Homo sapiens: one gene and its partner. The protein of the gene in region 1 purifies or fractionates together with the protein of each later gene. This does not show direct contact. Each region holds a gene or a part of one and is shown in the gene's direction. Other genes may lie near its edges.

Evidence for each region. The genes of interacting proteins can lie anywhere in the genome.
Region 2: the proteins of NOL4 (region 1) and ZMYM6 purify together in Homo sapiens (affinity purification with mass spectrometry; one large-scale study listed by BioGRID and IntAct). This does not show direct contact.

Annotation. Positions count from the first base shown.
Region 1 is NC_000018.10:34,018,714-34,022,681, reverse strand, and holds part of NOL4 (nucleolar protein 4), read left to right. Parts: intron 1-3,080; coding exon 3,081-3,364; intron 3,365-3,968.
Region 2 is NC_000001.11:35,021,946-35,025,445, reverse strand, and holds part of ZMYM6 (zinc finger MYM-type protein 6), read left to right. Parts: intron 1-3,500. UniProt on the Homo sapiens protein: Plays a role in the regulation of cell morphology and cytoskeletal organization.

The DNA of each region.
Region 1 (3,968 bases):
AAAGGATTCTAGAACACAAATGTTAAATCACTTTTTTTCATGAATTAAAAATTGGAGTTGAATATTTTCATTGTGCTCTTCTTTGGACTTTTGTGGGAAATAATAAAGTAATAAAAATCATCTTCATAATTTAGCGTAAGAATTTGAATTGGCATAAAAAGAACATGCACACATTTATCTAAATTACTTATATAAGTCATCCCCTTAATTCTGCATTTCAGAAACCCTAGACATTTCATGTTAAAATAATATTTTGAATCCCTGGATTAATACCTATGGAAAGTACCATGTAATAAAAAATGTCATATTATTTATGGCCAGTTTCCTAAATTTTCCTATGTATTTTTTCTTTCCACATCAATTCTTTCTTTGATGGGTACATAAAAAGTAATTTACTAGAATTTTGCCATTTGAACATATTTTAACATTTTTCACAGGGTAGTCTTAGAAAACTGTTTAAAAATATTATTTCAGGCCAGGCGTGAAATAATATTATTTCATTACAAATTAAACTTAAACCTAATGTGCTTTGTTTTTATATTTTTTATTTTATTTTATTTATTTATTTATTTTTTTTGAGATGCAGTTTCGCTCTTGTTGCCCAGGCTGGAGTGCAATGGCGCGATTTCAGCTCACTGCAACCTCTGCCTCCCAGGTTCAAGCGATTCTCCTGCCTCAGCCTCCCGAGTAGCTGAGATTACAGGCACATGCCACCATGCCCGGCGAATTTTTGTATTTTAAGTAGAGACGGGGGTTTCACCATGTTGGCCAGGCTGGTCTCAAACTCCTGACCTCAGGTGATCCACCCACCTCGGCCTCCCAAAGTGCATGAGCCACCGCGCCCAGCCTGTTTTTTAATTTTTTACTACAGATCTGGCTTCATCTTAGACTCTTGCCTATTCCATTACTACTAGTCGTACCAGTTCTATTCTCACGATTTTTCTAATTGTCTCCTCTTTTTCTGCATTGCCACTGCTTCAGAAGTTTGAGCTTTTAAATATGCCAAATTAGATGACTTCTAAATCTCTTAACTGGTCTCCCCAACTTCCATTTTGCCCCTTCATACCATTCTCCTCATCAGAGTCAGAATAGTCTATTTGAAATATAACTTTTTCCATGTCACTTCCCACAATAAATTAAAACTGTTATTTGCTCCCAGAATAAAATCCAAGTTCTTTGATAAACAAAATGCTTTTCTTGGTATTCTCTTTTTTTCTTCTGTTTATCTTTTCCCATTCTCTTTTCTTGCACTCCAGACTACTCTTACTTCTCACTTGCCCTGCATATGCTGACCTCTGTGACTTTGCACGTGCTGATCCCTCTATAGAGAATGCTCTTCCCCAACTTCTCCACCTGGTTAAGGCTCACTCACCTTTGAGAATTCAACTCATATCACCTTCTTTAGGAAGCCTTCTATGATGTCTTTATCCCTTGTATTAGATCACAGCCTTCTTGCTCTGCATTTTAATAGCATGTTTGTTTTTCTGTCTCTCTTAATTATCTGTGACCTTGTTGAAGACAGAGTCTTTACAGGCCAAATACTTAACCCCATATTGGTCAGAGTAAGCACTTAACAAATGTTAGTGAATAAATGAAGGAACATGTGAGTTATATCACTCTTTCAGAATTTGAATATAATTCCCATGAATGTAATTGATTAGAAAACATTAACTATTTCATTACATCCCTCAAAAAAACATACTTGATAACATTCAGAAAATTAAAAATCACAAGTATTGAATAATATTTCTTTTGCTCAGCCATATTTATATGATTTCACTACTAGCTTTTAACTAAATGAAACAATTTAATACCTTTTCCATCATAATTTTTAAAAATCAGTAGCAAATTTTTATCATATAAGATAAAATTAAGAAAAATAGAATGTTATTTCATGTAATCTTTGTCTATGTGTTTTTTTTTAACAAAATTGGGATCATACCAACCACACTCTTTTGTAGCTAGATTTTTGTGTTTAGTACTTCATGACTCACATCCCCATATCTTAAAATGCAATATTGAATAACTACATAATAATCTAACAATTTCAACATTTATTTAAATAATCTATTTGTGGTAATTTAGGTCATTTCTAATTTTTTGCTATTATGAACAACACTGGTATAAATGTTTACCTACAAAGAGATACACACAATGATTAAACTTCTTAGGTATTAAACTCCCAGAAGTGTAATGACTGGAACAAAGTTTATGAGGACTTTTAATGCTTTAGATGCATCTTAAACAGTCATTCAGCTAATACTGATGCACATTCCACCAGCAGGATAAATGATGCTTTTTATCAGAGAATTTTTACCAAATCTAGATATTCTCACTGGAAAAACAAAAACAATTTGCAAAATAATTGGTAGTTATTTAATTCTCTTTGTTTTTTTTTCTTTGAGATTGCATTTGAGATTGAACTGTTCTCTCAATTCTGTTTTCTTCTTCCTGTTTTATTTCACTTATTGTGCCTAAATGTGCTGTGTTAGCCCATTTGCGTTGCTATAAAGGAATACCTGAGACTGGGTAATTTATAAAGAAAAAAGGATTATTTGGGTTACAGCCCTGCAGACTGTACATGAAGCATAGTGCCAGCATCTACTCCTGGTGAGGGCTTCTGGAAGCTTATAATCATGGTGGAAGATGTAGGGGAGCCAGTTTGTCTCATGGTGAGAGAGGGAGCAAGAGAGAGAGAGAAGAGGTGCCAGGCTCTTTTTAAACAACTAGCTCTCCTATGAACTCCCAGAGCAAGAACTCACTCATTACCATGGGGATGGCACCAAGCCATTCATGAAAAATCCACCCTCATGACCCAAACACCTGCCACTAGACCCCACTATGGACATTGGAGGTCACATTTTAATGTGAGATTTAGTGAGGACAAAACATTCAAACCTTATCATGTGCCTACTAGATTAAAAATAACAATAACTGCTTTACAAGCTTATTGCTGAGGATGAATTACATATTGTATGTAAAATGCCATTCATATAATGGGAGCTCAATAAATGCTAGTTGAAGTAGACTCTGAATAGCATATTAATTAAAATCAAAATATAACTTTTCCTTTCCAACAGATGATTCTGCTGCAGAGAGCTTTAATGGCAATGAGACTCTGGGGCACAGTTCAATTGCTTCAGGGGGAACACACAGCAGGGAGATGGGAGACTCCAACAGTGATGGCAAAACTGGGCTGGAGCAAGATGAACAGCCACTGAACCTGAGTGACAGTCCCCTCTCTGCGCAGCTAACTTCGGAATACAGAATAGATGATCACAACAGTAATGGGAAAAACAAGTATAAGAATCTTCTAATTTCTGACCTCAAGATGGAACGAGAGGCGAGAGAAAATGGAAGCAAGGTATGATCACATTACAATTTCCAGAATTTTTGAGTTGGTCATGAAGGTCACAAAAAATACCTATGCATATAGCAGATAAACATTATTGTTAATAAAAATATTATAAACAAATCCAATAAGAGGATACCAAGAAACTTATCACCAAGCATATTGTGTGTTTATAACATATGATTTCAGGAATAATAGCAAAATGAATCGTGTCTCAAAGCTGTGGGTGTTTTTAGATCCGGAGAATCACTTGAGTTAATGTTTCTCATGTATATAATCTATTTGTATGAATCTCTCTGGGAATTTGTTGAGCTCAGATGTGACAGTTTCAGTCTCGGTACACAATTTTCTACTATAAAAGGATCACTATCTAGTTTCTCCTAGATGGATAGGTGTAAGTAAAGATAAAGTTTCAATTAAATTCTTCAGTTTGCTTTGGAGACCTGGGGACTTTGATCAGTAATTTTCTTTGTGGACACTAAATAACTGTTAAGTGTGAGGGTCCTGGATGAAGTTTGTGGATTAATTATTTTAAGAAATGATTTATCATAAATTATATCATACAAAAGACAAAAACATATTTCAGACATATCTAAATGTTTAGATTCTTTATATT
Region 2 (3,500 bases), on another chromosome or scaffold:
GCCCAGGCTGAAGTGCAGTGGCGCCATCTCGGTTCACTGCAACCTCCACCTCCTGGGTTCACGCAGTTCTCCTGCCTCAGCCTGCCGAGTAGCTGGGATTACAGGTGCCCACCACCACACCTGGCTAATTTTTGTATTTTTAATAGAGACGGGGTTTCACCATGTTGGCCGGCTGGTCTCGAACTCTACCTGCCTCGGCCTCCCAAAGTGCTGGGGTTACAGGCGTGAGCCACCGTGCCTGGCCTGTGCCACCTTTTGTGCAAATACAAAATCAAGGCCATGAGTGGTGGCTCATACCTGTAATCCCAGCACTTTGGGAGGCCGAGGTAGGTGGCTCACTTGAGGTCAGGAGTTCAAGACCAGCCTGGCCAACACGGTGAAACCACAACTCTACTAAAAATACAAAAAAATTAGCCAGGCTTCGTGGCACATGCCTGTGATCTCAGCTACTGGGGAGGCTGAGGCAGGAGAATCACTTGAACCCAGGAGGCGGAGGCTGCAGTGAACAGAGATTGCTCCACTGCACTCCAGCCTGGGCAACAGAGCAATATTCCATCTGAAAAAAAAAAAATACAAAATCACAGTCTTAGGTAAGTGCTTTAAAATTGTGTGAGGTGCATTGGGAGCATAGGGGAAGGAGCCCTAAATCTATATGGGAAGGAGAGGAAGGTTTCACATAGCAGGTAGCAATTGTATTATAAAAATTGACTAAGAGTTTCAGACAGAGAAAATATAGCAGAGAAAATAGCCACGTCATGGAGGGGTGAGAGAATGTGGTGTGTTTAATAGTTGAGTATCAACAATAAAGTGGGAAAAGATAATAGATTTAAAAATGGTTAGGTAGGATTGATCAAATTTAGAGATTGTTTATGGGTGTGAAGGTCAAAGAGGAGTCCAAGGATACTTACAGGTTTTGGGGTTTATGGTGATACCATTTACTGAGGGGTTAGAACAGGATTTTGGAGGAAGTACTAAGTGCAGTTTGAGGTCTGTTGTGTTTAAAGGGCTTGTGGGACATTCAAGTGGTAAACTGCACAAGGAGGCATTTGCACATAAAAATCTGGGATTTGAGATTAGAAAGTTATCTACTTGGAGATGTAGGGCTTCCAGATAAAATACAGGATGCCAGGTTAAATTTGACTATCAAATAAACAATGGTGATTTTTACTATAAGTGTATTGCTTGCAATACTTGGAACATAATTATTCTAAAATAGCACTATTTCAGCTATAGCTAAAAAGAAGGTTTCCTTTTCCTGTAAGATAGCAGGACAGTTTGCTGAGCAATTTGTAGGTAAGGTGGAGGGGGCTGAGGGATGTTGAGGGAGTTCTTAGTTACTTGTTTTTACCTGGTGCAATTGAAACATCAATGAGCAGGAAAGATGTGGAGTTGGGACTCGTGAGCTATGAAGGTTTAGAAAAATTACTTTGTGAGGTAAAAGAAACTGGTCAGGGAAATATAACAGAAATACTAGAAAAATTTTAGAAATTGAGTTGATAAGGCAAAGAAATTTTTATTGAATCTGGCCGGGCGCGGTGGCTCATGCCTATAATCCCAGCACTTTGGGAGGCCGAGACGGGCAGATCACGAGGTCAGGAGATCGAGACCATCCTGGCTAACACGGTGAAACCCCGTCTCTACTAAAAATACAAAAAAATTAGCCAGGCATGGTGGTGGGCGCCTGTAGTCCCAGCTACTCCGGAGGCTGAGGCAGGAGAATGTCGTGAACCTGGGAGGCGGAGCTTGTAGTGAGCCGAGATCGTCCACTGCATTCCAGCATGGGTGACAGAGCGAGATTCTGTCTCCAAAAAAAAAAAAAAAATTTTATTGAATCTTAAACACTCATTTTGGTAATTTGAAGATGTATATAATATTTTTAATGTCCTCTTCATTTTGCAAGTGTCAATAAATATTGTTATTTAAGTATAATGTTTAAGAACATGCACTTTGGATTGAATAGACTTAGATTCCTTCATTTAGCAAGTATTTATTAAATGCCAGTTATGAAACTAATAAATAAGTATGAGAACTAGCATTTTGGCCAGGTGCAGTGGCTCACGCCTGTACTCCCAGCACTCTGGGAGGCCAAGGCGGGCAGATCACCTGAGGTCAGGAGTTCGAGACCAGCCTGACCAACATGGAGAAACCCCGTCTCTACTAAAAATACAAAATTAGCCAGGCGTGGTGGCGCATGCCTGTAATCCCAGCTACTGGGGAGGCCGAGGGAGGAGAATCGATTGAACCCTGGAGGTGGAGGTTGTGGTGAGCTGAGATCCGCCATTGCACTCCAGCCTGGGCAACAAGAGCGAAACTCCATCTCAAAAGAAAAAAAAAAAGAACTAGCATTTTGTGTACATATCGTGCTTGCTTTTGACTAACTGTAAGATGTCATTCTGTATACCTTATTTATATTAAGTCATTTGCCCCCTCCCTCCCCGTTGGCCCTATGGGTTAGGTAATATTATCTTTATTTTACAGATAAAGAAATTGAAACTAAGAAAGATTAAATAGCTTGTTTAGGAGTCAAGATCATATCTGTTTCTGTCTGCTGTTAGAACCTATAGTCATTACTGTTATGTTGACTGTGTTGGGCGATTGGGTATACAGGGGTGAGAAAAACAGGTATTGTCCATAATGGATGTGATCTTTTTAGTCTAATGTGTGTGTAGGGGGAAGGATGAATGTTAAGCATTAATCAAATTATCCAAATAAGCAATGAAATGATTTACTATGGTAACTGCTGTGAGAGAAAGGAGATGGGAGAGACTACTGCAACAGGGGAACTTAATTTCAGTTGGACCAGAGTTTGAATTCATTGTAGTAATTACTTTATATTTTCACATCTATGACAGTGCTATCTTGGGTTTTAGAACAGAGAGACTGGCTGGGTGCGGTGGCTCATGCCTGTAATCCCAGCACTTTGGGAGGTGGAGGTGGGTGGGTCACCTGAGGTCAGGAGTTCAAGACCAGCCTGACCAACATGGTGAAACTCTGTCTCTACTAAAAATACAAAAATTAGCTGGGCATGGTGGTGAGTGCCTGTAATCCCAGCTACCCAGGAGGCTGAGGATCACTTGAACCCGGGAGGGAGAGGTTGCAGTGAGCCGAGATGGCACCATTGCACTCCAGCCTGGGCTACAGAGCGAGACTCCGTCTCAAAAAGAAAAAAAAAACAAAACAGAGAGACTGGGTTTGATTCCCATCTGTGCACGTAGTCTCTTTGTGACCTTGGGCAAGTTGCTGAACATCTCTTAGCTTCACTTTCCTCATCTATAAAGAAGGCATATCTTATAGAGAGCACCTCTTTGGGTGCTCATAATACATATCATGGGAAGTGGTGAATTAATGCAATGGTTCCTAGTTTTTGGCATTTAATAGTCTAAAGAAATTTCTAAAGTAACTTTGGAACTAACATAGCTACTCATTTATTTTGCTATGTGTGGAGAGATTAAAAATACAACTGCCATTTATTACCATCATTGATTCAGAAAAGTAAGACT